4 linked regions of the Homo sapiens genome follow. The protein of the gene in region 1 interacts with the protein of each later gene in a pairwise test. Each region holds a gene or a part of one and is shown on either strand. Other genes may lie near its edges.

Region 1 (8,605 bases):
TTTGAGACAGGGTCTTGCTCTGTCACCTAGGCTGGAGTGCAGTGGTGTAATCTCAGCTCACTTCAACCTCCGCCTCCAGGTTCGAAAAATTCCCTTGCCTCAGCCTCCTGAGTAGCTGGAATTACAGGTGTCTGCCACCACACCCGGCTAATTTTTGTATTTTTAGTAGAGATGGCATTTCACCATTGCACAGCTTTCTGAACTGAATTGCATATGCCACTGTCATAGCATTAGTTACATTGTATTGAGGTTTGAGATTTATTTGCTTGGATCTCCCACTAATGATTGGCAGGGTCCAAGGGCAGGATTTCTGTCTTATTTGGACCAGATCCAACAGGATAGTTGGGTTAGTATAATTTGGAAGAGTGAGTGCATGAATGCATGACATTCCTGTGGACAGGGACAAGAGCACTGGGACAGTCAGATGCAGAACCAGAAAGAGGTCATGAAGAAAGATTCAGATATGGAAGCTGACCACAGAGTAAAATGATAATACCCAATACTTCCTATGTGCCAGGCACTATCTCAGTACTCTCTGCGTGATAACATCTCAGTCCTCATAAAGACCTCAGTATGCCTGCGATGCAAACAACTGAGTCCCGGAGAGGTTAAGTAACTTGCCCCAGTTCACAAGCCTAGCAGGTGATAGAGGGAGAGGGAAGACTTGGGCTTGTGCACTGTGGCTGGAGAGAAACTCAGTCTTACCCATGATAAGATCCTGCCTCCCACATGATATGGCTTCAAAGGCAGTGTTATGAGTCGAATTGTGTCCGCCAAAATTAATGTGGTAATATCCTAATCCCCAGTACCTCAGAATGCGACTGTATTTTGAGACAGGGTCTTTAAAGAAGTGATTCAGGGCTGGGCGTGGTGGCTCATGCCTGTAATCCCAGCACTTTGGGAGACCAAGGTGGGCAGATCACAAGGTCAAGAGATCGTGACCATCCTGGCCAACATGGTGAAACCCCGTCTCTACTAAAAATACAAAAATTATCTGTGTGTGGTGGTGCACACCTGTAGTCCCGGCTACTCGGGAGCCTGAGGCAGAAGAATCGCTTGAACCCGGAAGGTGGAGGTTGCAGTGAGCCAAGATTGTGCCACTGCACTCCAGCCTGGCGACAGAGCGAGACTCCATCTCAAAAAAAAAAAGAAAGAAAGAGAGAGAGAGAGAGAGACAGAAGAAAGAAAGAAAGAAAGAAAGAAAGAAAGAAAGAAAGAAAGAAAGAAAGAAAGAAAGAAAGTGATTCAGTTACAAAGAGGCCATTAGAGTTGGTCTTCATCTAATCTGACTGTTTAATTTACAAGAAAAGGAAATATGGACACACAAAGAGACCCAAGGATGCACACAGATAGAAGAAAGATACAGCAAGAAGGCAGCCGTCTGCAAGCCAAGGAGAGGCCTCCAAAGAAACCTATCCTGCTGACACCATGATCTTCTACCTCCAGCCTCCAGAACTGTGACGAAATCAACTTCTATTGTTGAAGCCATGCTGTCTGTGGTACTTTGTAATGGCAGGCCAAGCTGACTATCAGGCCGTTGGAGCTGGGGAGGACCAGGTGCCTGAAGGAAAGTGTCAGGATGAAAGTGGACGGAAGGCCAAAGCTTTCCAAGCCTAGGTTATTCGTAGAACCATAAATGGGTGACTTAGCCACAGTTCCCAGGAGGCGTGTCTATTCACGGGGGACTGGAGGGCAGTGCCCTGAGTCTAAGGTTCCCTTTGATTCTTAAATTTCCACAGCACATTTCCGGAAGCCAGCCTTTCACATTCCCATCTCATTTTACGCCCACCCACCCACCAGTTGTTGGGGGTCACAGTGGGTGGGTGGTCTGATGTCTGACTTGGACTCCAGATCTCGTCCGGGTATAAACTGCAGGCTGAGAATTCTTGGGAAGCCTCCAAGGCAGGACCACTATCTGTGCTCTTCCTTATCAAAGTGGAGTCATTTATATTTTAATGAGATTATTTCCCAACACAACAGTTTATCTTTCATTTCATTTATCCCTTTGCCATCTGGTCCCCTTATGTTTGCATGTAGGGCTAGTGGCTTTCTTTGTCTAAGTAGATTTGTCAATAGTTTATAAATTTTCTTCTCATGATCATAATATTTATTTTTCACATTAGACAGACTCTTCTGGAGTCTTGGAAGAAAGAGATTTCTTTTTTTTTAATTTTAATGTCATTCTTTAACCTGTAATTTTTGTTTCTGGGAAATGTGTTTTCAAAAAGTAATTAATTAATTAAAATGAATGAGCAAAAGTTTCCAGACCAATATATTTTCTGGTTCTATTTGCTACTGGATAACCCTAACAAATATTTTACTTAAGGGACTAAATCAAGCTCGCCTAATAGCAAATGGTACAGATGCAATGAAAGTGGCCTAGCTTCCCTCTAAACTGAAATCCAAATCTGGGCAAATTCTATGTTCTGGAGATATTTATTTTTATCTGTTTTCAGTCTCTTGCTGTAAAGTTCTTATCTTAAAGCTACTTAGCTCCTCTTTTTTTGGCCCCCTCCCAATTACTCTTGGCCTTCTTAATTACTAATCCATCTCTTTCATCAGCAAAGTTGATGGACTCTATTTACCATCCGATTATCTTAAGTTTTTTCCTCCAAGACAGGGCTTTGGCATTCCAGTCCTATTCTAATGGCTGATGGCACTACATACCTCTCAGGTGCCTGGTGGGAAGGCCAGCCATGCCCATTGGCCTTGCCTTCTCTTGACCCAAAAAGCTCCATTAGGCCAGAAAATAGCTCTGGCCTATTCCTCAACATATCCCCAGCACCAGCCCCTGCCTAGTACACACTGAGTGTTCAATAAATAAATGAATGAACTGCCTTGTTTTCTAACACACCAACACATGCAATAATATAAACAGAGACTGAAACATGCTTTATAGGTGAAATACAACAAAAGATTGATGTTCAGACCTTTCTGAGAAAAAGTGATTAAAAAATCAGCAATATCTTTTATTCATATGCTTCGTAGTTTCTAAGGGGCTTTGAATCTCCTGTGAGATTTATATCAACAACCCCATTTTAAGGACAAAGGAAGCCTCACAAGAATTTTGTGAGATTTAAATAAATCATGTATGTAAAATCCTTACCACAAAGACTGACATGTAGTAAGAACTTTGGAAACAGTTGATGGTCTATCCTTTTTCTCTATCGAGAGTTTAAAGAACTAGTACATGATGGATTCCGATCCAGAAGTCAGGTTTCATGTTTCCTAGCCTGTTACACTTCCTGCCATACCTCAGTATTCCCCCAACACTGTTCTCAGGCTCTGATAGGAATATCTTTAGGGCAGCAGTCAAGACACCCTAAGCAGACCAGTGACACTTTTCTGTCCCCATCTTAAAGGGGTGGAGGAGAGCATCGTACCCCCATGATTAAAGAGACTGACATTAAACAGCTGGACTATGGAGTGTGGGAACCATGTAAGTTTAGGGGCTAGATACCCTGCAGTGATCACTTGAAGGTTCTTGTGCTGGTTACCTGCCAGCAACTCTTATACCCCGCCCTCCCAAAAAATGGGCCAGGTGCAATGCCTCATGCCTATAGTCCCAGCACTTTGAGAGGCCGAGGCAGGAGGATCACTTGAGGCCAGGAGTTCGAGACCAGCCTAGGCAACATATTTTTCTCTACAAAAAAATTAAAACTCAGCTGGGCATGGTGGCACGCCTGTAGTCCCAGCTACTCAGGAGGCTGGGAGGATCACTTGAATCAGGGAGGTGGAGGCTGTAGTGAGCTGTGATTGTGCCACTGTACTCTAGCCTGGGCAACAGAGTAAGACCCTGTCTCAAACAAACAAGCAAAAAATGAAGTGAGGCTTTTAAAACCTGGGAACTGAAGCAGAAAGCCATGCATCACTAGAATACAGTGATACCGTTCAAGCTTCTCTTCCATATAATAAATGCATCACTGAGTTGCCATTAGACTGCTATGCCAATGATGAATGATAACACTGTGTCCCCTGTGGGCGAGGGGAACCTGAATCCATGCATCATTTTGAGATGTGGCTTGAGGTTTTGGTCTGGCATGCCCTTTCTCTGGATATTTGAGAAAGGCAGAAATCATTTAAATAGCATCTCATTTTCCAAAGCCCATCTTCTAAAAGTCATGCTGATTTCACCCTTTCTTCCCTGGCCTTTTCCTTAGTACCATCTTCCTGAGGATACAACTGGCCCACTCATCAGCCTTCTAGGTAAGTGGCACAGGCTCCAGCTACCTTAAGTGGACTACCTGGCTTCCCTGCTCACTGATAGGGTGTCCTGGGACCAGGCACTCGAACTCGGTAGGGTTTAGTTTCCTTGACGGTAAAATAGAAAAGTAAGCCTGTTTCACAGCACTTCCCTGAGGATCAAATGAGGCACAGTTTGAATTGTTCCCACACAGAGTAAATAAAGGCAGGTTCCCTCCTGGCTGCAAGATAAAAAATGGGCAGGGGAATCTCCCTTGAAGAACTGGCACGCTCCTTTCTTTCAGCTAATGCCCACCAATATGTCCATTGCTGTTTGGGGTGCAAGAAATTTTAGGCTCAGTAAGGACAATTCCTCCCAATGGTTTGGATAGGGCTGTCAGAACTAAATTCAAGTTGTTCGAAGTCTCCTTCCGCCCGCCCTGCCAACTTGCCTCCCTCTTCACCCTCCTAATAGGAGGTGAGCCCCTCCAATAGCGATCATTAACTCACCCTAAGGTTATCCCCTTGCTGCAACAACCCGTGAATTGCAGGTTCATTCAATGCTCTTTAAATTATTTTTAAAGGCTTTTTTTTTTTTAAGTAGCAAAAGAATGCATGACACCTATTGTAAACTGGCAAGTTGAGGGGGTGGGATGCCGCTCAGACGTGTACTGAGAAAGGTGATAATGAATTTGGCGTCAGCAATTCTTCAGAAACTATAAGAAAACACCCAGGTGTTCGAATTGGTCCCAAAAGGGAAACAAATCCTTCCCAGCTTTCACGATGCGCTGAGGTTGGTTTTCTCAGTGCTCCTCCCAGATCAGGAGGTGGGGAACCTCGTGGCAAGCCCTGGGGCTCGGGATTCCCGGACTGTGGGCCTGGGGGAGAGAGGCGGCTCTCGTGTGCACACTTACCCCGCCCCCACAACACACACGCGGTCACGCACCACAGACGGGCACACGCGCTCAGCACAGCCACAGTCGCGTGCAACCAGGAGTGCACACCGCACCCACATCACACCGCATGCACAGACGCACGGGTGTGAGACCACACACCTCGGCCACTCACGCTCACACGCCCCCCACGCGCTCGCACACGCGCTCGCACGCGCACTCCCCGCGCACCGCCGCGCGCACACGCGGGTCCCGCCGGACGGCGAGGGGCGGGGCGGGCGCGGGCGCAGGCGCGGGTGCCCAGCCGGGCGCGGTCGGGAGAGGGCGCGGCGCGGGGTTCGCGGCTGGCGCTTGAGTTGTTTGCCGGCTCCCGGGCCGCCAGACGCTCGGAGGGAGCCCGGCCGGCTCGGACTGGGCGGCCGGGAGGGAGGGCGCCCCGGGTCACGACGGCGCCCGCAAGCCGAGCGCGGCCGGGACGTGCACCATGGACCCAAAGGCGGGCGGCGGCGGCGAGGAGGACGACTGCGTGGACTCGGGCGCCGAGACCGGAGGGTGAGCCGCGCCGGGCCGGGCCGCGGGCGGGGGGCGCTCTCCGAGTTGCGCGGCGGCTCCTCCCCGGACGGGGACCCTCCTGATCCGTGCGACGGGACCGGGGCGCGGGGCTTCTCCTCCTGCCGGATCCCCCGCTCTCTCCTGGGCGGGCCGCGCTGCCCTGGGCAGGGCGGGCACCACCCGGGGGGAGGAAAGTGGAAGGACTCAAGGTTCAGTGCAAGCCCACCCATCCTGTGAGGCGATGCAGAGCGCCAGGCGGATGCAAAGACCCCTTGTCTGCATCGCTAGAGACAGGAGATGCTCTTGCACTTGTTTCCTCCTTCCTCGGGGACTTTCCTCCTGTAGCTCCGGAGCCCCCTGGAGTCCGGCCCTGGAGATCGGGAGAGGAAGAAAAGCAGGGTGGGACACCCGCACCTAAAAGTCTTTCCGAAGTCGGCTAGGAGGATGGCATTTCTCGTTATATGGCTTCATCGTGGGACTTTAATCTGTGCTGCCGAGTCCCCCTCCCCGACTCCTCCAGTCCCGCCGAACTTCCTCACCTCTAAGTGCACCTGTCCCAGCTGGACCCTTTGGCCTGTTGTACCGGCGGGATGGAGATGGTGTTGGGATTAGGATCTAGCCCTGCCTTTTTTTTTTTTTAATATTCTCTTCGCTTCAGCGGACTCAAACAATGGGCTCAAACCTTTGGAGACTAATTAGTTAGTCTCCAAACACTGTTTTCCTGAGCGGAAGAAAAGACAAAATGCCTTTTAGGAGATGAATGTCGTTATAAAGGCTTCCAGGCAGCCTCTGTCTCTAAAGGACTTTCCTGTGCAGAGTCAGCACCACATCCAGGCCGCGGGTACTGACCCAGGAGGAAAGGGTGTTTTTTCCTATCTGGAGTAATCCTGGGGGAGGGCGGGAGCTGCCTAGACTACAGAAAGCCTCATTCCTGGAAGGTCGGAGAGGTTTTAGACTAATCTCAGGATTTGGCAACCCTGTGAGGGCAGGTAGAGAATCCAGGCCCACGATCGACCCAGAGTTCTAACCCAACCCCGGCAAAGCTCCCCACAGGGCCCCTCCTGCCCCACCACTCCTAGCCCAAATGCGGGACTTTACTCCCTAGGGCATTCACCCAGCAATGGGCTTTCTCTGTTATCCAAACTTATTCATAGCTCTCTACAGCACCCAATTATAATCTGGTGGAGTAACCTGATGCTAAATGCCAAACTTCCTTTCTTCTTCCCACTCTTTGTGTAAGTGGCATTTATCAACTTTAACAAGATTATTGGCTTTTTTTTTCTGCCATTAGTTAGCTGGACCATGAATAGAAGAAACAAAGCAAAATTAACCAGCTTATTTGTAACTGCGTTAAATAAAGCATTCACTAGTCTATTCATTTTCAATTTGCAGAACTCACCTAAAACTGATATTTTTTTCAAGGGCTCTGTCTTAGAGAAGGGAGAGGAAGTCCTGGACCCAGGGGGTGACATCGCCCCAGGATCTGGACATCAGCATGACAGCGGCCAGGCCTCCTGGGAGGGGCTCCCCACTCCTGCTGACACCAGAGCTTCTGTTCTCAGCCTCTGTCACTAAAATGTGTAGTTGTAACAGGACAGAATTGTTTAAAGAATTCTTGGCCAGGTGCGGTAGCTCGCGCCTATAATCCCAGCACTTTGGGTGGCCGAGGTGGGCGGATCACCTGAGGTCGGGAGTTTGAGACCAGCCTGGCCAACATGGAGAAACCTCATCCCTACTAAAAAATATACAGAATTAGCCAGGTGTGGTGGCGCATGCCTGTAATCCCAGCTACTCGGGAGGCTGAGGCAGGAGAATCGCTTGAACCCGGGAGGCGGAGGTTGCCATGAGCTGAGATCACGCCATTGCACTCCAGCATGGGCAACAAGAGCAAAACTCCATCTCCAAAAAAAAAGGAATTCTTACTGTATCACTAGTATCCTTAAGCTAAAGGTAAAATAGCATGCATTTCAATGTATGCTAATTAGTTTTGTGTTTGCCATATATTCACAGAGCCCTTGAATTTCAGTTATCAAAAAGCTGTTCATCGTTTCCCTGCTTTTCCAGAGCTTGCCCCCACCCCTTACCCTATCCAGCTTTCACAGAGATTATGTAGAAAGCACATAGAAGACAACAAGTGTTTGCTATCGTTAGTATTTTTAAAATGCAAATCTGATCATGTCTCTCCCTTTCAAACTTTTATGGCTCTGTTATCTACAAATGCAAGGAATTTAACGTGGCCTATATGCCCTGACTCCTGTTATGGAGTCCCTTCTTCCCTCCCTGGCCTTGTTTCTCAGCAGGTCCTTCTTTGCGCCTTGTATTTTTCTGTTTCCTCGCCTTTGTCAAGCTGCCCTCTTTGCCAGCTCTGCCCTTCCCACCTGACTTGCCTGTCTGCCAGGTGAAACTCTACTCTTCTTTCAGGACTCAGCTCAAGTGACACATCTGCTAAGGCAGTGATCCTTAATTTGGGGTCCATGAATTCCTTCAAGTTGTATGCAAAATGATGTGCTTTGTGAATTTGTATGAGAAGAGAACTTTTTTTTTTTATCAGATTCTCAAAGTAGCTGGTGATCTATTCCAAACCAAGTTTGGGCAAGATATGAGACATTTCATTTTCAACACACTGTGTCTGAGGTGTTGCAAGACATCCAAGTAAAGATGATGAATCAGCAGTTGGGTATATCTGTCTGGAACTCAGAAGGGAGGTCTTCATGATGACATTGCATTTGGGTACTATTTACCTAAAAATGGCAATGGAAGCTCTGGGAGAGACTAAATCAACTGAAGGTAATAGCAAGCACTTTCTTAGCATTTAGTATGTGCCACCTACTGTTCTAAGCCTTTATGTATTTCATGGACTCCTCGAATCCTTCAACAACTCTGTGCAGCAGGTGCTTTTTAAGACCAGCCTTGAGAAACTATATTTAAACGCCCAGTCAATGAGAATGAGCTGATAAAGGAGCCTGAGAAAGAGTAGA
Region 2 (7,719 bases), on another chromosome or scaffold:
TTCCCTAATGAAATAACAGGGATTCAGTTAAAGATCATGAATGAATGGAACCATTAGATGAAAGGTTAATGAACGATTCTTACAGGAAGCTATCACAGACTGATGCCACCTGAACAGAATGATCAACCTTAGCATCACTACAGGCCAGGCAGACATTATGCACCTCCGTGTGAGGCAAAAGAAAATACAATCTATTGAGTACCCTTGACTAGAAATCTGAAATAAGTAAATCAAGCTTTTAGATCTAACTACCATTTTATAGGAAATATGGAAAATACAGGAAGAAGTTAAATTACATCATTAGGAAAGTAAAAAGAAAAATCCAGAATGTAAAACAAGGTCCTGTATAGTACCACTGACCTAGTTCCTTCAACATGCAGGGGAAGGGGAGTTGGAGAAGTTGGGGGAATGAGATTTCTCTATATTAAGAGACTTAAAAGACTCTTAAAGGACCTAACCAAAGAAAAGCAACATTTGGACTTTGGATCCAGATTCTAATAAAGCAACTGTAAAATAGACACTGTTTTAGACAATCAGAAATATGAATATAAACTGGGAATTAATGATACCAAAGCACTTTTAATTTTGCTAGGCATGATAATGGCCATTATGATTATGTAAGAAAATGTCCTTTTTTTTTTTCAAAGATGCTTATTGAAGTATGTAAGGATGAAATGACAATATATGGAATTTACTTTAAAATATTTTGGTAAGAAAAAGGGTGATTAATGAAATCAAATGTGATGACATTTTGAAAACTGCAAAATCTGAGTAACAGGAGTTCACTATCCTATTTTCCCTACTTCTGCGTATATTTGAAATTTTTATCATAAAATTACCAAACAGAATGAAAATTCACATTCTTTCCACTGTAACTACAGTTTTCAAACTTGAGTGTGTCTAAGAATCCACATCTCATGCAAATCCTAAGAATCATCCCAAAAAATTGTGATTTTGTTTGTCTACGCAAGATCCCAGATTCCATTTTTAACAAGTGCCTCAAGTGAATCTGATACAATCTACAGCCTCATATCTGAAAACTATACACTTAATTGCTTTACTACAAGTAAACCAAACCTTAAAGGAAAGTCATGATCATATCTCTTACCTGCCCTTCACCATACCCCACTCCTATCTTAGTGTGATAGACATTTAATTAATCCTTTTCCTGACACTATAAATTCCATGAAAGTGGGACATGTTTGTTTTTACTCACCATGGTGTTCCATTGCATAGCAGAATTCCTAGCACACAGTACACACCAAATAAACATTTGTCAAATGAATGAATGAATAACAGAAAAGAGAAAAAGGAAAGTTAATTGCAGTCCACTGTTTCAAAATTAGTTTGAGGGCTGGGTGCTGTGGCTCACGCCTGTAATCCTTACACTTTGGGAAGCTGAGGCCAATGGCTCACTTGAGACCAGCCTGGGCAACATGGCAAAACCCCATCTCTACCAAAAAAAATACAAAAATTAGCCAGGCATGGTGGCGCTTGCCTGTAGTCCCAGTTACTCAAGAGGCTGAGGCAGAAGAATGGCTTCAGCTCGGGAAGTGGAGGCTTCAGTGAGCTGAGATCATGCCACCACACTTCAGCCTGGGTGACAGGGCCAGACCCTGTCTCAAAAAAAAAAAAAGTAGTTCAAGACAACAATCTGAGAAAATTTTCAATTTCTTGCCAAAAATCTGGTATCAGAAGTATGGATCAATTAAGAGGGGCACAGGTTGGCCTACCCTTAATATAACACAAGTATAAGATAAACTCTCACCTCCCTGAGATATCAGACTTTGGACGTTAATTTGAACATCTACCTTCCTATTAATTGTTTAGGAACTGTAATAAAAATACACTCTATATTTCATAATCCCAAACAGAGAGGGCAAGTATACTAGAGAAGAAAATCATATCTTTACATTTTAATAGATATACAAATAAAAAATTACACTTCCTATGTTCAGAAAGTACAAACCCCTACAATTATGAACGTAAGTCACAAATTCAAAAAATAATGGCAAATATAACTATTGAAATTAATTTAGGAACTAGTTCCAAAAAAAGCACTTACTAAAGATGGTTGACAGTCTTACATTTCTACCCCAACATCATTTAACTGTTTAAGTTTTATTTCTTAAATAATAAATCAAAGACAATTTTTTGAAGTTTTAATTGAAGTGTAATAAACAAAGTCTCATAGATTTTGTTTAATAAATTTTATTTTATTATTTTTTTTTTTTGAGACAGAGTCTCACTTTGACAACCAGGCTAGAGTGCCGTGGCACCAACATGGCTCACTGCAGCCTCAATCTCCTGGGCTCAAGCGATCTTCCTACCTCAACCTCCCAAGTAGCTGAGACTACACCCAGGTAATATTTTTATTTTTTTTGTAGAGCCGAGGTCCCTCTCTGTTGCCCAGGCCGGTCTCAAACTCCTGGGCTCAAGGGATACTTGCACCTTGGCCTCCAAAAGTGCTGGGATTACAGACCACCATGCCAGGCCTATCATAGAATTTTCAGAGACACAAGAGACATCAGCAACTATCTGGTCCAACTCTTTGTTCTACAAATAGGGAAACTGAAGCCTAGATGAGAAAAATGATGTACTTCATTACACAGAGATTTAATAGCAAAACAAGACTATGCTCTGAATTTTCAGTCCAGTGTTCTTTTCACACCACACTAATGGCATATTTTTAAGAATACTTTCCATTGTGAATTGCAGTACTACCTGTTCATCTTCTTGAACACATGTGTGTCGTATCCAACAGCTATACTGTGGACTTAAACTAAATGGATATACCCCCTTTTTAGTGGGGATGAGGAATGGAGAAGTAGAGCTATTGGATTATCTTCAGCAATAGAACTCTATATATAATATTTCCTGATAAGTGGGTTTTTCTATCAATTATCGTAATAGAATCTGTAGTTTTCACCATATATCCATAACACCAAAACTTATAATCGTGAAGCAAAACTGGTGTAAAGTTATGCAAAGTCTAATCTAAAACTGAGAATTTACTCTTTATTCAACATAAAATTTTATATGTAGTTCCTTCTTCTGGATTAAAAACATTTCTGGGCAGGGTGCGGCGCTCATGCCTGTAATCCCAGCACTGTGGGAGGCTGAGGCGGGCGGATCACGAGGCCAGGAGATCGAGACCATCCTGGCTAACACGGTGAAACCCTGTCTCTACTAAAAATACAAAAAATTAGCCGGGTGCGGTGGCGGGCGCCTGTAGTCCCAGCTACTCAGGAGGCTGAGGCAGGAGAATGGCGTGAACCCAGGAGGTGGAGCTTGCAGTAAGCCAAGATAGCGCCACGGCACTTCGGACTGGGCGGAAAAAAAACATTTCTGACTCAAAAGATTAATGAATTAACCAATTCATATCTCAGCCGTTACTCTGAGCCACGTCTCTACACACCCACAGGGTGCCTGTAGTGCAAGAGGGCCTATTTACAGAACACACACTGAAAGTATAAAAGATACACACAGAAAGAGAACAAGATAACAACTCAATCTCCATAAATTAGTTCCCAATTGCCTTTTATATCCAACTAAACCCTTGGCACAAAGTATATACCATATTATAAATCACAACTAAACAAATAAACAGTCTCTAAAAGATCTTCCCCATTTATTGAATCTATTAATAAATGTCTCAATTTTCAGTTACAATTGGCTTAGACGTCAATAACGCACAGCTAGATTATGAATTTATGAGCGGCTTGAGGTGCCAGATAAATTACTCTGTACTTAGAGACGACAATAAATATCAACTTCTAGACTAAGCACACTGACTAGTATATAACAGAAATATTATAAATATGACAATATTACAAATGCTTACTAAATACCAAATGCTATGATAGTTGCTTTGACTATATTATTCAATTCTTACAACAATCTAGTACTTTTATCCCCTCTTATTTTTCTGAAGATGAAACAGCATTGAGAGGTTAAAATAACTCCCTAAAATATTTCAGCAAATACATGTCAGAGCCTAGATTTCAATCCAAGTTTAGGCCCTATACAAAGATTTGCTGAATGAATAAAAATGAATTAGGAGAGTAACTTGTTTTTTTAAAAGAAGTTCCTGCAACATACTAACATCCAAAAAAGTCTGGTCCAAACTAACCAGATATGCAATTGATACTAATAACACCTATTAACTCACAAACTAGGAACACTGGCAGAGATACAACTTTAAGGCTCAAAGATTTAATGACCTCAGGTCTTTTCATTCCAAGAGTAATATACCCCCAAAACAGATCAATTCAACTGGCAAGGCATACAGGGGATTAGACAGCAATAATCCAGATTCGAAAATGCTACCCAAAATCTGCTGTAATAACCCAATGTGTGGACTAACACTGTCAAAAAAGTTCACAACAAAAATTTCAGTTTAGCGACAGGGACAATAGTGGAATTAATGACAAAACAGATAAGTTTATGGGAGGAAGCTTGTTTTGGAATATGAGGGATTTGAGACTAACATGACATCCAAGTAGAAATGCTTACAAGGCAGTCAGATATTTAAGGTTTGAAACAAAAGACTAAAAATAAAGATTTGGGTATCATGTACATAGAGATAATAATAATTGAAGCTGTAAGAATGGATGAATTCTTCAAGAGAGTGAAGACAAAGATAAGTATGATAGGCCAAAGATTGAGGAAAAGAAAAAAAGAAGAATGAAAAGATGGGAAAGCACTAGGTCAAGAGAGCCCAGGAAGATAATTTAAAGGAAGAAAAACTCAAAGACTAACACCAGAAATTTCATTTACATTTATCTTCCACATTCTGAAAAACTCCCTAATAAGAAATAGTAGTGACAAACAGCACAGTGTTAGAACTCAACAGGCACTATTTGACTAATACTGGTTCCCTTCTGTCTCCTCCGCTCACCCGTTGCTACACCTCCACCAGCCAGAAGAGAAGTGGAAAGGTCATGTTCTTAACAGGCATCATGAAGCGATGTGCCAATAAATATGCTACAAGCAAGATATTTTCATGAAAAGTATGTCAAACTTCAAAACAAATGTATCTATAACCCTCCCAACCATTTTTGTTTTTCCTTTTTTTTGAGACAAGTTCTCACTGTGTCGTCCAGGCTGGAGTGCAGTGGCACAATCTCGGCTCACTGCAACCTCCCCGTCCTAGGCTCAAGCAATTCTCTGGCCTCAGCCCTCCAGGAGCGAGCCACTGCACCCGGCCTTGTTTTTCCTATTTAATTTACAAATCATAAGCATTTTTTCCTCTGCAAAGATTAAATAGACTTAACTAAACTCCATCCCTTATTCTGTTTTCAAAGGTACTCAAAATCACTGAGAAATTATTACAGGCCCTAGACAAAATAATTAGAAGATAAGGAAGTCCGGAAAAGAGAAATAGCTCCCGATAATCCTTATAAACTGTAACATGGACAGTAAGAAAGACAACCATTAGGACACTGGAAAGAATCTGACCTACAGAAAACCAAAGTTGACTAATTTGAATGCTCTAGGAAACAAGTGAATGGTTATCATAATGTATCTTAGTATTTGCAGACTATTTTAGCATTTATACATGATATGAAGATTGAACTTACTTAGTTCTTGAAAAAAATTACAGGTGTTCGAGAAAAGATTGGATAGCCACTTATCAGAGTTCTTCCAGCTACATTATTCTAAACTACTGCAGGTTGAGTATCCCTTGTTTAAAATGCTTGGAACTAGAAGTGTTTCAGACTGCAGACTTTTTCAGATTTTAAAATATTTGCATATACATAAGATACCCTGGGGATGGGGACCAAGTCTAAATAAGAAATTCATTTACGTCTCATACATACCTTATACACAACAACCTGAAGGTTATTTTTTGCAATATTTTAATAATTTTGTGCATGAAACAAAGTTCTGACTGCATTTTGACTGCAACCCATCTCACAAGGTCAGGTGGATTTTCCACTTATGGCGTCATGTCAGCACTCAAAAAGTTTCAGATTTTGAGCACTTCAAATTTCAGATTACGGATGCTATTCATCATTAGTGTCTCAACAAAAAAGCTGTTTAGTAGGTAAGGTAGTTTAAAAGGACATACACCAGCAAATTTCTGAAACCAAAAGATTTGGAAGTTTCCATTTCTAAGCATGAATCTAGTAAAGGAGGTAGAGAAGAAACAATTTGAAAACCTTATTTTTGGGATTACAAAAACAACTCTAGAACTAAAGGACTGCACGTGGCACATAATACACACTAATAAGTAAGTATCAGTTACACAAATCAACAAAAGTCAAAATAACAGAAAAAGGCAACCAATGTAAAAGGAGTTTTGTTCCTATAATACATGAGAGGTCCAAAGTCCAGATAGGGAAGAACAAGAACAGACTCACTGAAAAAGCTGAAGTCACCTGATAGGTCACCCTGAATGACACAATGAATGAATGAACGAACGAATGCTCAATGTTAAACATAAAACATCATGCGAAGAAAATTCATGCTAGATACTACAAACCCAGAAAAAGGATTTTTTGTCTCTAAAGGAAATTCAGTCTTGGGCCAGGCACGGTGGCTCACGCCTGTAATCCCAGTACTTCGGGAGGCCAAGGCAGGCGGATTCCTTGGGGTAAGGAGTACAAGACCAGCCTGGCCAACATGGTGAAACCCCATCTCTACTAAAACTACAAAAATTAGCCAGGCGTGGTAGTGCACGCGTGTAATCCCAACTACTCGTGGGGGCTGAGGCAGGAGAATCACTCGAACCCAGGAGTCGGAGGTTGCAGTGAGCCAAGATCGCGCCACTGCACTCCAGCCTGGGCAACAGAGTGAGATTCCATCTCAGAAAAAAAAAAAGGAAAATTCAGTCTTTACCAAGTTCAGATTGACGGGGTAATAAAATTTCAGTAACAGCTATCAATAAACAGCTGTGGAACTAAACAGAAAAAGAGGACAAGATTATAAGATTTGAAGGGGAAAAAACAACCAAATCTGTCTGTTGACTATTCTCTTTAACAAAATGTTGTTTTAGAAGTGTTGGGCTCCATGATACCTGGCTGTCCTAACTCTGGAGGCCTTGATGGCTTACCTCCTCCACTCTTCCTCTTTGTTCAACCTTCATCTTTCACCCTCATTTTTCCCTCCATTGTTTCTCCCTTTACCATTATATCAACTTGCACCTTTGTGCAAATGACTTCTAAATCATTATCTGTAATTATGAGCTCAGTTCTGTATCTCCAACAGTCTACAGGTCATTTTCTCATGATTGCTCCACTATCCCCTCAAACACAACGAATCTAAAATTGAATTTATCTGTAGGCCTATTCTTCACAAGCAATTTCCAAACCTGACTTTGCTATTTTTACCATTCTCCCTATAATCCAGGCTCAACCTCTTTAGAGTCATCTGACTATTGCCTCTCTCTTTGGTTCCCCATCTTTTCCCTGCCAATAAAGTTCCATTAATTCTTCTTTTCTCATTCTCATGCCCCAATTTTGGGCTTCAATCATTTCTGGACTATTACAATAATAACAATTTTAAAAAACTGTCCAATCTCACTGTCTCTCCAATCTTTTCCCATGCTAACCCATCTTCCACACACCAGATTCATCTTCTTCATTCATCCTAGCACGGTCTTATTTATAAATATTTAATAGCCACAACAGTGTAAAGGCAATCCAAAATCCTTAGCCTACCAATCAAATCCTCCACAATCTAACGCTAATATTTCCTTCCAACCTTATCTTCCTT
Region 3 (7,719 bases), on another chromosome or scaffold:
ATGTTGGTCATGGCTGGTCTCGAACTCCCAACCTCGGGTGATCCGCCTGCCTCGGCCTCCCAAAGTGCTGGGATTACAGGCATAAGCCACTGCACCCGGCCTGATTTTTGTATTTTTAGTAGAGACGGGGTTTCACCATGTTGGCCAGGCTGGTCTCAAACTCCTGACCTCCGGTGATGTGCCTGCCTCACCCTCCCAAAGTGCTGAGATTACAGGTATGAGCCACCGCGCCCACCTATATCTGATGTTTTATAGACACTGAGATTATGATGTCCCTTGACTTCTGCCCCCAGCCCTGACACCTATTTTGTCACTCTTAAAGCACCCTGTTTGTTGTGGTGCCCATCTGAGCCAAGCATGTGAGGGGATTGGTTGCTTTGTTATACCACGTTTTTCTGGAGTGATCTACCACCTTTGGTCACCTGGTTGGTTTCTGTATCCCTGTCACAGTATCTTCTTTTTGATGCTCCAGAAGACTGCGAACCCTATCCTGTACAGGACCAAATGTGTCAGGAAAGCTCTTGCCCCGCTCCCCCTTTTTCCCAGCTGTTTGGGTGTGTGTCAGATACCTTTGCTTACCTTGTCCTGTTACGTTCCAGCACCAGCCCCACTACCCCAAGCATCCCCTTCTCACTTGATGACAAGTCTTCCTTCAGCTGCTCAGACCAGATCCCTAGGCCACTGTTGACTCAGTTTGTCCAGAACTGACCACTTCCATGCCTCCCCTTCAAATACCTGGTTGAACCTGGTGCCACATTGGGGCACTAGGGCTGCCTAAGGGTGGGGTGAGGGGAGTCTTATTGTCACCCTGGTGGCCAAGGCTTTCTTAATTGGGAGGGTGTTTGGGGAAGCAGCTTGGCCTGATGCCTGTATCCCCCACATGACTTGCGGACAGTCTGGTACTTGTGTGAGGGCCTCAGGTATAGAACACACAGAGCCTTGGTGAGCTGGTATCCTTGTGTATGGCAGGACCATGGGCCGGGACCAGGGTGCAGCAAGTGCCTTGCACCTGGTGTTCAGAGAGCCCAGTACTAGCTGGGCAGGCCCAGGAACTGTGTGTTCAGGGCCTGGACAGGCTCCTGAACCATAGGGTCAGAGTTCATGGGGGAGGCAAGGCAGACCAAGGCTGCAACAGTAGCAGCTCCTTGCACCTGACCTCAGTGTGCCCCTCAGTGACTCTGAATGAGGCCCAGGGATCCCCTGAGGGCCCCCTAGGAAGTTACGGTCTCAAGGCCATGCCCCTCACTTGCCCCCTCCTCTTCCTCAGCCCCATAGGCTCCTTCAATTTCCGTGATCCTCGGAGTCCCCAGGAGACCAGGTGATGGCAGCAGCCAGACTCCTGCCAGTGCCGGCAGGACCCCAGGTAAGCTGTCCCCAGTGCTTATGCAGTGCCCCCAGCCCGAGCCCTGTGGTTCCTTCCGTGCCCCGTAGAGCTCCTAAGAGCAGCCAGAGCGTCACCACATGCCCTGAACTCCGCGGCCCCTTCCCATCACCCACCTCAGCTCACAGAGCCCCCCACTGCCAACTGCTCATGTCACATGTCACATGCACCCACTCCCCATCACAGACATCAGGATTTGGTTTTACCTGCAGCAGCCCCTGTCGTTCCAGGCCAAGCTGACCTTCGAGGATGTGGCTGTGCTCCTCTCCCAGGATGAATGGGACCGCCTGTGCCCTGCTCAGAGGGGTCTCTACAGAAATGTGATGATGGAAACCTATGGGAATGTAGTCTCATTGGGTAAGCCACCTTAGCAGGCCTCGTCTATGTATCTGCGTATTGGACTGGGGTGGGGGCTTCTCAGGGTACGGGGCCTGGGACAGGCTGGTCCTGGAGGTTTGCTCTCATCACCTCTCTGGGTGCTCAGCTCCAGCAGAAGATCAGTCCTGTCCATTTTCATGTCCCCACAAGTGGCTTGGGCAGGGGGAGGGGGCTCTGTAAATGTTGTGTAAACAAAGACTTCCCTCCCCACGAGCAGGACTTCCAGGATCCAAGCCTGACATAATCTCCCAGCTGGAGCGAGGGGAAGATCCCTGGGTCCTGGACAGGAAGGGGGCTAAGAAGAGCCAGGGCCTGTGGAGTGACTACTCAGGTGAGTGAGGAGAGCTGGCCCCTCCCTCACTGAGGGCTAAACAGGTCCTGAGCAAAGCTGTGGACCTAGTTCATACTGTGCCGCTCACTGGAGTGGCTTCCACCTGGAGTAAAACCTTATCTGGCCTTATCTGGCAAAGGAGTCTATAGACTGGGGGTTGCTGAATCAGGTGGCAGCCCATGGCTGGAAGTGAGCATAGCAGTGAATTTCAACAAGCTGATGTGCAGAGCCATGTAGAGGAAGTTAGGGCATGGCTGCAGTGATTCTGTCCCTGACCAGAGGGACTGGTTAGCCAGATTTGGTCCTAATAGGACATTCAGGTTTTGAGAGTTACCTGATGATTTAGAAAATAACAAAGCATCCTAAATGTGGAAAGGAAGTGTCTCAACCTGACACTTAAGGTGAAGTGCTGAAAGCACACTGTTTCATCTCAGAACAAGACAAAGAAGCCCGCCATCCCCATGTCCATATAATGTTGTACTGGGTATCCCATGTACAAAATAAGGCAAAACCGGCCAGGCGTGGTGGCTCAAGCCTGTAATACCAGCACTTTGGGAGACTGAGGCGGGTGGATCACGAGGTCAGGAGATCAAGACCATCCTGGCTAACACGGTGAAACCCTGTCTCTACTAAAAATACAAAAAATTAGCCGGGCATGGTGGCATGCACCTGTAGTCCCAGCTACTCGGGAGGCTGAGGCCTGTAGTCCCAGCTACTCCCAGATTCATGGCGTGAACCCGGGAGGCAGAGGTTGCAGTGAGCTGAGATCGCTCCACTGCACTCCAGCCTGGGGGACAGAGCATGAGACTCTGTCTCAAAAAAATAAAAATAAAAATAAGGCAAAACCAAAGCTATAAGAATTAGAAAGAAAAAAGCATTGTTTGCAGTTTATGTGATTGTCAACCTGGAAAATGATTGATTAAAATTCACAAGGGAAATTACCAGTTTTGCTGGATACAATTTTTTTTTTTTTTTTTTTTTTTTTGAGACAGTCTTGCTCTGTCGCCCAGGCTGGAATGCAGTGGCATGAGTCTCGGGTCACTGCAAGCTCCGCCGTCTGGGTTCAAGCAATTCTTACGCCTCAGCTTCTCGAATAGCTGGGATTACAGGTCCATGCCCCTATACCCAGCTAATTTTTGTATTTTTAGTAGAGACAGGATTTCACCATGTTGGCCAGGCTAGTCTCGAACTCCTGACCTGAAGTGATCCACCTGCCTCAGCCTCCCAAAGTGCTGGTATTACAGGCATGAGCCACTGCACCTGGCCAGAAATGTTTTATTTATATTTGTCAGCAACCAGCAAAGGTGTAATATTTTAAAAGATAACATTTATAATAGCATCAGGAATATAAAGCATCCAAGAATTAATCTAACAAAAGATGTACAAGACCTTTAGATGGAGAAAATTATAAAAAGAAAGATGGTGCATAGATCCAACCCTGAAGTTCATGTTTGCGGTTGCTTAAGGCAAAGAACCTCTGACTTCAGTAAGGTGACGTCTGAGTCTTAGGAAAACCTCAGTCAGCCTGTCCTGCCATAATGTGCCCCACTTGGGGAGAGTAGGGACAGTTTGGGCAACACCTCCATTGGCTGATCAGCTTCAGCATTTCAGATGTGGTGGTTTTCCCCTTGAAAGCTCCTCCTTATTTCTAAAGTAGCTTTATGTGGATAGGGCACCAGGTATTACAGTCTACCTCTTACTGGCCTGCAAAATCAGATATCCTCAGAGGAACAAGGTACATGCCAGCCTTAGAGGAATTTAATTTTCCAGTGACTATACAAGAAGACACATCATCATGTCTTGGAAATCTTGCATAGAACTTCTGCTTACTGACTGCAGCTGTAGGAGACAAGAAAACACAGGAGGGCATTTTGCTGCCACTGCCAAACCAGTCCTGGGCTCCCTTGTGTCCAGCTATGTACTCGCCTGATGGAGAGCTTAAACTGCCTTTGAGCGCCCTTTGATTTGACACCACAGAGACTGTGAAATTCTCTGGGAGCATGGCTGGTTGGAGATGAGAAGTTTTTTCATGGAAGCACCTGGTCCCCTCACCTCTAACACAGGCCACAGAGGACGATGGGACTGAGTTTTAGATTACTGATGTGCATAGAAACAGAAGCCACCTGCCACAACCTGGATCACTGCCACTAGCATCAGAGCAAGCGAGGAGTAGATATGCCTTTGTCTTGTCCTGGCAGTTCCTCAGGATGGATAAGTGTGTGCACCTGCCCAGCCCTGACCCTGCTGTTTGTAACTCAGTAAATTACATGTTGTAATAGCAACGAAAGGATTTTCCACTCTTTTTTTTTTTTTTTTTTTTTTTTTTTTGAGAGACGGAGTTTCACTCTGTCCCCCAGGCTGGAGTGCAGTAGTGTGATCTCGGCTCACTGCAACTTCTTGTCTCCGGGGTTCAAGCGATTCTCCTGCCTCAGCTTCCCTAGTAGTGGGGACTACAGGCATGCACCACCATGTCCAGCTAATTTTTGTATTTTTTAGTAGAGACGGGGTTTCACTATATGTTGGCCAGGCTGGTCTCAAACTTCTGACCTCAAGTGATCCACTCACCTTGGCCTCCCAAAGTGCTGGGATTACAGACGTGAGCCACCATGCCCGGCCAGGATTTTCCACTCTTGAAGGGAGTATTTTGTTGTCACTTCAACTCGCTGTTTTTTTTCCAGACAACCTCAAATATGACCACACTACAGCCTGTACACAACAAGACAGTTTATCTTGTCCATGGGGTAAGTGTATGCCTGATCTTTTTAATTCAGTACAATCTCTGAAGGTGTTAACACTAATGTTTTACAAGAATGTAGAGGCGACTCGGTGCTATGAAGCGTGTTAAACAACTCACACAATTGCTACAAAACACCAGGGAGGGGCTTTTTGTGTTTTTAATTTTTAAAACATTTTTCCTTTTCTTGTGAGCCATAGTAGGCCTAGAGAGATTACTGGGTTTTTATAATTAAACATTTATTTCGGTGAAATCATTTTGTTTCCTTTTATTTGTTCCGTCATGCTTAAAACATACTTCCCTACTTTATACTTAACAACCAAAACCATTATTCTAAAAGCAAGTGACTCTTGGCTGAAGTCCAGCTTCTGCACAGTATGGATGCAAGGTGCAGGCAAGTTTGGCCTTCACAGCAACTTGATTCTGTCTCACAAGCAGTCATATGATGCTTTCGTGCCATGGATGATTGAGCGAGTAGTCTCTTATGCAGTTAGTTTAGTGTGTGTGTGTGTTTTCTTTTTTTCAGGCTGGAGTGCAGTGTAGAGACAGAGTCTTGCTGTGTTGCCCAAGCTGGTCTCAAACTCCTGGGCTCAAGCAATCCTCCTGCCTCAGCCTCCCAACATGCTGGGATTACCGGCATGAGCCACTGTGCCTGGCCTGTGTTTTTATTATTAAAGACATCTTGTCTATCTTGTTACCCTGGCATCAGGTCAGAAGCCGCCCATTCAGGAAACTTTTTTTTTTTTTTTTTAGACAGGCTCTCACTCTGTTGCCCAGGCTGGAGTGCAGTGGCATAATCACGGCTCACCAGTCTCAACCTCCTGGACTCAAGCAATCCTCCCACAACAGCTTCCCGAGAGTAGCTATAACCACAGGTGTACACCACCATGCCCAGCTAATTTTTGTAGAGACGGGGTTTCACCATGTTGCGCAAGCTGGTCTCAAACTCCTGGCCTCAAGTGATCCTCCCACCTTGCCCTCCCGAAGTGCTGGGATTACAGACATGAGCCACCACACCGGGTGAAACTTCAGACAATAGAAGTAATACTTTTCAGTGTAAATGAGTAACTATTTCTTTAGCCTATAGGCTTTTATTCCATGAAGATGAGGCTTATACATTAAAAAAAGAAAGAACTAAAACTTCTATCAGTTTAAAAAACACATAGCCAGCTTAGGCAAGATACTGAGACCCCACACTACAAAATAAAATTAAAAATTAGCCAGACATGATGGTGCATTCCTGTAATCCCAGCCACATGGAGGCTGAGACAGGAGGATTCCTTGAGCCCAGGAGGTTGAGGTTGCAGTAAGCCATGATCACACCACTGCACTCCAGCCTGGGTGATAGAGTGAGACCCTGTCTCAAAAAAAAACCCACATAGAGTGACTTTCTAAAATGAGATATGTTAAAAATTGTATTAAACTGGGCCGGGGGTGGTGGCTCATGCCTGTAATCTCAGCACTTTGGGAGGCCGAGGCAGATGGACCACCTGAGGTCAGGAGTTTGAAACCAAGCTGGCCAACATGGTGAAACCCCATCTCTACTAAAAATACAAAAAATTATCTGGGCATGGTGGCACATGCCTGTAATCCCAGCTACTTGGGAGGCTGAGGCAGGAGAATCGCTTGAACCTGGGAGGCAGAGGTTGCGGTGAGCTGAGATCGTGCCATTGCACTCCAGCCTGGGCAACAAGAACGAAACTCTGTCTCAAAAAAATTGTATTAAACTGAAGACAGTGAATTTAAATTTTTTTATTAAAAAAACTGTTAAATTCTCACTGTTTCAATTTGTCAATACACTTAATAAATTCCTCTGAATAGAATAAAAAGACGCAGAATTACCCAAAAAGAAAAGTAGGCACAAATTTCTGCATAGATTAGGAAAACCAAAGGGCCAATAAATAAGAAAACTGCTCAGCCTCATTATTCATCAGTAAAGTGGAAATCAAAACCACTGTGACATGATGTTACACCTTCAGAATGGAAAAAATGGAAAGATCTGACAATATAACATGTGGGTGAGGATGCAGGGCAGCTAATAGGGATGTAAATTCACATAGCCACTTTGGAAAAGTTTGGCATTATCCAATGAAATTGAAAACATGATCACATTCTGAGAGAATGGAGGTAAAAAAAATGAAAAAAAAAATCGAAAACATGAATTCCTATGTTCACCACTTCCCACTCTTGCATATGTATACAGCAAGGACATTTGTGTGTAAGCACCAGGAAACATAGGAGAATCTTCACAGAAGCATGCTTCATGATTTAAAAAAACATTTGAAAAGAATTCAGGACCGGGCGCCGTGGCTCCTGCCTGTAATCCCAGCACTTTGGGAGGCCGAGGTGGGTAGATCACGAAGTCAGGAGTTTGAGGCCATCCTGGCCAACATGGTGAAACCCTGTCTCTACTGAAGATACAAAAAAATTAGCCAGCCATGGTGGCATGTGCCTGTAATCCCAGCCACTGGGGAGGCTGAGGCAGGAGAATCACTTCAACCCGGGAGGCAGAGGTTGCAGTGAGCCGAGCTCGTCCCATTGCACTCCAGCCTGGGCGACAGGGTAAGACTCCGTCTCTAAAAAAAGAATTATGTTCATAAACAGAATAGACATAAATAAACTATGGTATTTTAACTTAATGGAATATACTGCAGTGAAAATGATTAACTGCTGTACAACAACATGATGGATCTCAAAAACATAATGCTGACGGGAAAACGAGTTCCAGAAGACTGTGCTCCATGAAACTATAGAAAGCTCAGAAACACGCATAACTAAGTAAAATAAAATATAATAATGTTTAGAGCCAGGCACAATGGCTCATGCCTGTACTCCCAGCACTTTGGGAGGCAAAGGCGGGAGGATCATATGAGCCCCAAGCAGCTTGAGGCTGCA
Region 4 (7,719 bases), on another chromosome or scaffold:
AAGGTTGCAAACTTGGAAAGTTGACAAGTTGTTTGATTGCATACTGGTTAGTACAAGTAATGCCTCAAACAGTGTTACTTGCCTTCTATCTGAGCATATACTTTAGGTTTCTATACCAGTTTTTCTGATCACCACTCTTACCATCCTCTTCCTATTTCTTCACATCCGTTCTGTCTTTCTCTAGGGCTTTCCCACTAGCTTGTCCTTTTTCTACGTTTTCCTTACTTCCTTCCTTCTTTCTCCTTTATATCTTTTTCTCCTTCCCTATCTTCTTTTTGCCTCTCATCCTCAGAACCCTGAAGAAAAAGGAAGTAGTGGGAAAAAAGTTTTAAGTAAATTACTTTTATTATTTTCAGTTTAATGAATAACCTTTGAGTAATTGCTAAATTTTTGTACTTCCTATTATAAGCTCAGTTGCTTGAAATAAGAAAAGGTTTAAAGAAGAAGCTAGAATACTAGTTATATGAGTTCTTCTTTCAGAAGACCTATGTATGTCATTATTTTTCTGGATATACACACAGACACACACACACATATATATATATATCTCCTATATGAATTATCACATGTTGTCATATGCTAAATTTTATTACTATATTTATTTTCTAGTACTTTATCATGTGTATATAAAATTTTGAAGATGATGATTATATTTTTAAGTAAGTATACTGTATACATGCTTTTTACTAGTTTAGATAACATTTATATGCATATTTCCAATTTTTTAATCTTTAATATTTATTTTAATTACACTTAAGACATTTCAAAAACCTTTGTATTTATAGCACAGTGACATTGATGAGATGATCAATTATGAAATATTGAGAACACCACCATGTGGTTGTTTATTTTTAACTATAGATATTATAGCCGAAATTCAAATATCTAAGCATGTTAAATAAGAGCTATGGAACATAAAGAGTTTGATGAAATCTGATGCCTCTGGAAAGCTAGTGTCTATGTTTTGTGATACTTTAGTACTATTGTAAAGAAGTTATAGTAAAATGTGACGTAAAAATTATTGATCATCAATGCTAAAGAATTTATAAAAGATAACATACTATTTGTGAAGTTGATTAACAGATATTTGGTTATGACCACGAATTTTCTTTCTCTTTCTCTTTCTGTGCAAGGTGCCTGTGTCAGTGGCCATGATGACTCCCCAGGTGATCACCCCTCAGCAAATGCAGCAGATCCTTCAGCAACAAGTCCTGTCTCCTCAGCAGCTACAAGCCCTTCTCCAACAACAGCAGGCTGTCATGCTGCAGCAGGTAATGTGGGTTACCTGCTTTGGTGTTCTAGCATGACTTAGAAGGTGTGCACTTATTTTGAAAGTGCAGTGGGCATATTTGACAATTCAGTCTCCATTTGAAAGGACAACCTATTAGCGTGCTAGAACATAAATGTAACATTTTAATTATAGAACTCGTAAGAAAATCTAGATTGCTTATTTTTTTAAAAAAATTATTAAAGTCTAGAATAAGAGCAGAGAGAGGTGTAATTTGAAAATGGAATGAGCCAATATTTAAATATTCAAATGCTTAGGTACATTCAATTTGTTGACTTGCCAAAAAAATGCAAAAATACTTACCAGATAATAGTTGCTTTTAAAACTCCTAACACCTTAGCATTCCTTTTAGTTCACAAAAGTATGAAATTTGAATAGACCACTTTGTTAAAATGGAGAAAGTAACATCCCAGATTTTCCTTTTCATAGTATACTCATCGTTTAGAAAGAGAAGAATCTATTTATTATAATGAAATTAGGCAGCTGAGCCACAAATTTATGAAATTTATCTTTTTAAAATAACAAACATAGTGTTCCTAATAAATACCATATCGGAACCCTGAGTGTATATAGACTTTATATTATACACTTACTTATTAGAGAGAAAATAATGTGCTTTACCTGAAATTTTTTATATATAATTACTTTGCTAACTTCTGTGCTGATGACTACAGACCAATTACTTGTAAATCTGACATTGTTCTGAACATCTGATGGATTAAGTTTTTTCCAATAAGAATTGAGCAACCTGATTTTATGTAGCTAAATTTTTATTCTTACAACTGGTAGAGTATAGCCTAGTTTTTATGTGTCAGTAGGACTTCAGATGTAATAATTTAAAGTATTAATTTGGCTCTGACCCTTTAGAATACAGACTTTCTATACCCTTTTGTTTAGGATTTTTTGGATTCTGGATTGGAAAATTTCAGAGCTGCCTTGGAAAAAAATGTATGTAGAGCTGTCTCTTTGAATCCAATGTATATTTTTTGTTGTTTTTATGGGATGAATCTTAATGGATACTCTGCCATATGCCAGTCTAGAAGAGTTTAGGAGATTTATAATACGTGAAACTTTTGCCTTTATTTATTAAAGTCAAAATGGTTTATTCAGCAACAACTACAAGAGTTTTACAAGAAACAGCAAGAGCAGTTACATCTTCAGCTTTTGCAGCAGCAGCAGCAACAGCAGCAGCAGCAACAACAGCAGCAACAACAGCAGCAGCAACAACAACAACAACAGCAGCAACAACAGCAGCAGCAGCAGCAACAGCAGCAGCAGCAGCAACAGCATCCTGGAAAGCAAGCGAAAGAGGTAGGATCCGGTTATCTCATTGATACATAACAGTTTGCAGTTAAGAAGGGGCTTTGAGCGGCAAGAATAGTCTTAGATCTTCCTATAACAAGGCTCTTGCTGTCAAAGTTGCAGTATTATATATTTTTACTGAGCTTAGTAACAGTGATAGGCTCTCAGGCTCTCCTTTTTTGTAGCATGGGACTTGAGAGTTACAATCTAATGCTGCTGTCGTCTAATGTTCACTAATGAATCACAGTACAAAGAGCAAGCTGTGTGGTGGACAAAGTACTGATTATCTTGTATTCATGGAGAATCTAAGTTGGTGAGGGAACCTTATTTTTCTCAGTGGTGCAGCTCAGAGAACATGCATGCAAATTTGGCCTATTGTTGGGGATAGGGAGACTAAGGGAGAAACTGGTTGAGCACAGATTTCAAAGTCACAGGCCCCTGATTAATGAACTGCTACTGTAGGTTGAGAGTGGCGAGTAGAAAGTTACAGTTTGATATGCTCATAAATCAAACTGACAAGCGGGCTTCTCAGGCCTAGCTTGCACTTGTCAGCAAACTGCATCAAATATAAACATAATACAAACAAAACATGTTGAAGTAGTTAAATTGATCAGCAGGTATCAGAGCCGTTGTCTTCAAGCTGCCCATTATGCAAACGTACAGGAAACAGTTTTGACCTCCTGAGGCTTTGTTTCTGTTTGGATTTGTGAATAGAATTTCAGACAGCCATCAACTACAGAATAGAAATTGCTCCCTTATTTCTCCCGAGGCTTTGGGCAATCCACATGACTTGCTCCATTATGCAGTCTGTTTTCCAGTGAGCGCATCAGAAGTTTCTCTTTTCCCCAAACTAAAAAGGAAAGGTCTTCCACAGCAGCTTGTCTTTCTCTGAAGTGTGACTGCCATCTCATACCCTCTGGAGTCCAAAGACCTCTGGTTTGTCTTGTAATGCCTCACAAAATTGGAAGTTATACTTTTTCTTATAATAAGGGCACTTTTTTTTAATTTTGCCTTGAACGTAATTCTGCCTTTAATATATTCCAACAAGAGAGGAGAAGAGAGAGAGAGCTAACAGGCCTATCCTATGAAGGCTACATCCCAGTTTACTAATAGATCACCAGAGACCACATTCATGGACCTCTGCAGATCAAACTTATTCAATTGGAAAAAAAAAAAAAGTGTGTCGTAGAAGTTGACTATTTCTGTAAAGTAGTGTTCTTTTAATCTAGAGAAATGTATTATTATCTACAATAAGTAGATTTTAAAAAGCTGAACCTTTATTACATACTATCTCTAGACCTTGCTCCATACTTTTTTGATGCAAGTTCCTTGGTTCTCTAACACGATTTAATAATTGAAAGAAAGGCAACTGAAAATCTAGAACTTACTCACATTCTGCCCCTGAACTTTGACTATGGGATGACCAAAAAACCCACTCAGGCAATGAAAGGAGTGTGCATTTCCCTGTAAGAGAGCTGTTTGTACAGACCATGTTCTCTGCTGTTTACTGGTTTGGGTTTTCTGATACCAGCAGCAGCAGCAGCAGCAGCAGCAACAGCAATTGGCAGCCCAGCAGCTTGTCTTCCAGCAGCAGCTTCTCCAGATGCAACAACTCCAGCAGCAGCAGCATCTGCTCAGCCTTCAGCGTCAGGGACTCATCTCCATTCCACCTGGCCAGGCAGCACTTCCTGTCCAATCGCTGCCTCAAGGTACATACAAAATGTTGTGCACTCTTCATTTCAAATCTTGTACTTTCTACCATTTCATGGCCTTTCTGCCTTATACCTTGAGAAATTTTGTTTTTATGACTTTCAAATTTATTATTAAAACGTGATTGTTAACATGGTGGCATGACCTATTTTCTAGAGGCTCAGAAATTTTACCATATACTGCTTTCAAGTGTGAAGTAAAACTTTCAAGTTTTTGTTAGATATTAAATGTGTATTTATTAGTCTTATGGGCACAAAATGATTTATAAGGGCAACACAATTCAAGCACTATTGAATATACAGGAGGATCTGCAGGGAATTGGATTACCGGGAAGGCTGACAGCAGTCCATTTAACTAAGTGAGCTGATAGGAGTTTGGTGGACAACTGATAAAAGAAAGATAAAAGTTCCTAATCTTCACACTGAAATCACCACATGTTAAAGAGAGGCTTCATGAATTTCTATAGAGCACATTCCAAGTTAAGCTTTGTAGAACCCCATCCTATGTCACAGGACATATCCATTCTTTTTTCTCTCAAATAACATTGCCTATGCATGTATTGTAAACTATAGTTTTAAAAAATCTGTCAACTGTATTCTTATTTTTCTGTAAGAAAAATTTGGAGGTACTCTGATAATACAATTGTGTGTCATATTCATAACCCTTCACTTTTGGGAAATGGAAAGTTTTAAATTATAAAAGACAAATAATGGTAAACAAATGACTGTGTGCTAAAATTCTCAATTCAGGTAAGTTATATATCATTACACTTCATAAAGGGATATTCTAACTTGCATTTGGATTTTGTTGGGACAAACATTAATCCAAATGTACATTAATTCAAATTAATTATATTTGTCACAGAGGAGTTCATATTGTAGTAGCATTGGCTGCACATTTTGCTGATTCTAAAGGACATACTAAAGAAAATCAGGAGTATCGTGGTAATGTTCTCTCTTTTTATTTATCAAATTAATGTCTCTTTGGCTTTTTTCCCCCTGGTTTTCCTCTCTCACTTGACTTCAAATCTTCTAATTCACCTGATTGAAGCACTCCTAGGAAATCAAAAAAGATAAAGTTTAAATAGCAAAAGAAAAACAAGGCAATAAGCCTGTTTTTCTGAGTTATTCTAAAGAATATTGGAATAAATATTCTAAAGAAAATTGGAATAAATCATAGCGTCATTATATCAATGAATGTTCTATTCACAATTATTCTTCTTTAGAAAAATAAATACAATTTAAAGACATGAAAAAGTAAAAAAGAAAAGAGTTTATAAAATTATTTCAGTGTAAACATGGATTTCTTCAATAGAAACTATACTAAAACAGAAAAAATATTGTTTTTGTTTTCAGTCAAGTTCAAATGAAATCTGTATTTAGGATATAATTATATGAGAATTTCCTCAACAGAAAAGCATGATCTACCACAATCTTATTTTATTAATTCAAGTAAACATTTTAAGAAAGTTTAAAATATGTGCTAATAGAAACACAGTGTAACTTGTTTAAAACATATTGTGAAACCACATTCTTTCAAAACAAGCAAAAAACATCTCTCTGAACAATGAAATTTATAATGATATAATCATTCTAATAGTTTTCAAATAGAAATTACCTGAATTCAAATTAAAATTTATTTTCATAGAATCCTTGTTTCTCTCTTTTCTTCTGTTTTTATCCTTGATAAGATATATGAGAGATAAAATGAGAAAATGGCGAACATTTAGGGAAAGGAAAGTAAATCTGAAAACATCTGTCTTTGAGCAGAAAATTTATATTTTAAAAAGGAAAAAAGATGAAATCACTCAACTATGTTTTCATTAATATAGGTTAAAAAAATCCATCTGAATAATTGTAGGGCCACAAATGTAGTTGGTTCACCGATCAAAGTTTGTGTTGTTGCCATGTAAGCCACACAAACCGGCATCATTGTCTTGTTTTTTACGATTTAGATGATTAAGTGTGAAAAATATCATTGTGGAGGCTCATTGTGTGTTGAATACACCAGCTACAGTAAAGGAACCTAGCGTTACGGTACTATGCTGGAATCCCAAAACTAGAGTGGGGAAAAAGTAAAGAAATATTTGTTGTACAGTGTAAGCCCTGAATCATTTCTTCCTTAGTTAGAGGTTAAGGTAAAAGTATTTTGAATATTTTTATTATCAGTTTCCAGTTCACTTTTTACCAGGTTTTTGATTGGTTGATTAGCCTTGAAAAATAGCCATATAAAAACCAAGTAGGATTAATGTGCAATGATGGATGATGTTCTCATTGTGTCTTTAAAACTGTATCTTTTCTTTTTTTTTTGAGGAGTCTCACTCTGTCACCCACACTAGAGTGCAGTGACGCTAACTTAGTTCACTGCAACCTCCGCCTTCCCGGGTTCAAGCAATTCTCCTCCCTCAGCTTTCCGAGTAGCTGCAATTACAGGTGCCCACCACCACGCCTGGCTAATTTTCATATTATTAGTAGAGACAGGGTTTCACCATGTTGACCAGGCTGGTCTCTAACCCCTGACCTCAAGTGATCCGCCTGCCTCGGCCTCCCAAAGTGCTAGGATTACAGGCATTAGCCACTGTGCTCGACCTAAAACTATGTCATATTTTATTTGTCCCTATAATTTAACACAACTTCTTCATGCTACTTTTAGAGTTACAGCTTCTTAAATTATATTAAAATATATGTATATAACAATGAGAAATAATAAAATTATAAGAATTTTGGTAGAATAGCAGATTTATCTACATTCCTCTCTAAAGTTTTATATTTATCATCTTAGTGTAAATTATTTTAAATATTAATCATTTAAGGTCATCATTAATATTACTATAATATTGGATTTTAGTTAGGCAAGTAAACTTCCATCTCCTAAGTATATGTTTGGTTTGTATACAGACAGATGATAGATATATACATAAGTATAGGTATATAGGTATATACATACATATGTCAAATAGAAAGGATGGATTTATAGTTCCATCTTGAATAATATACTGATTATAAATCTATGTAATATATGAATAACATAGTTTATATATTATCTAGTAATGAAATTTAGTGAAACATTTTAATGAACCAGGATAATTGTCTATTGGTTAGGAAAGATGAAGTTAACTTTAAACATTGATATGTTTGTGACATCCGATAAACGTTTGTGTACTCTAATCCACAATATATTCACACATTTACTATGACTATATGGATAGGAATACATGTGGTGATGATTTTCTGTCACTCCAAGTTTTTACATATTTTTTAATTTATAAAAGTTATTTAGAAGACAAGATTTTCCTTTCCAATTTGAGAGACCAAACAGAGAATGCTAGATTCTAGCCTGGATTCTTCTGAATTAACACATTATAGAACTAGAGATTCTCAGAATAAGAGTGGTTGAATAATAATTAAAAATGAAATATT

What was found.
Region 2: the proteins of FAM124A (region 1) and ROCK1 interact in binary tests that used the Homo sapiens proteins (3 or more experiments, as listed by UniProt).
Region 3: the proteins of FAM124A (region 1) and ZNF250 interact in binary tests that used the Homo sapiens proteins (3 or more experiments, as listed by UniProt).
Region 4: the proteins of FAM124A (region 1) and FOXP2 interact in binary tests that used the Homo sapiens proteins (3 or more experiments, as listed by UniProt).

What each region holds. Positions count from the first base shown.
Region 1 is NC_000013.11:51,216,943-51,225,547, forward strand, and holds the start of FAM124A (protein FAM124A), read left to right. Parts: upstream 1-5,455; 5' UTR 5,456-5,559; coding exon 5,560-5,627; intron 5,628-8,605.
Region 2 is NC_000018.10:21,101,243-21,108,961, forward strand, and holds part of ROCK1 (rho-associated protein kinase 1), read right to left. Parts: intron 1-7,719. UniProt on the Homo sapiens protein: Protein kinase which is a key regulator of the actin cytoskeleton and cell polarity.
Region 3 is NC_000008.11:144,883,952-144,891,670, reverse strand, and holds part of ZNF250 (zinc finger protein 250), read left to right. Parts: intron 1-1,267; 5' UTR 1,268-1,321; coding exon 1,322-1,363; intron 1,364-1,596; coding exon of another isoform or gene 1,597-1,611; coding exon 1,612-1,738; intron 1,739-1,976; coding exon 1,977-2,090; intron 2,091-4,768; coding exon 4,769-4,831; intron 4,832-7,719. UniProt on the Homo sapiens protein: May be involved in transcriptional regulation.
Region 4 is NC_000007.14:114,627,407-114,635,125, forward strand, and holds part of FOXP2 (forkhead box protein P2), read left to right. Parts: intron 1-1,133; coding exon 1,134-1,271; intron 1,272-2,185; coding exon of another isoform or gene 2,186-2,236; intron 2,237-2,398; coding exon 2,399-2,599; intron 2,600-4,121; coding exon 4,122-4,299; intron 4,300-7,719. UniProt on the Homo sapiens protein: Transcriptional repressor that may play a role in the specification and differentiation of lung epithelium. May also play a role in developing neural, gastrointestinal and cardiovascular tissues.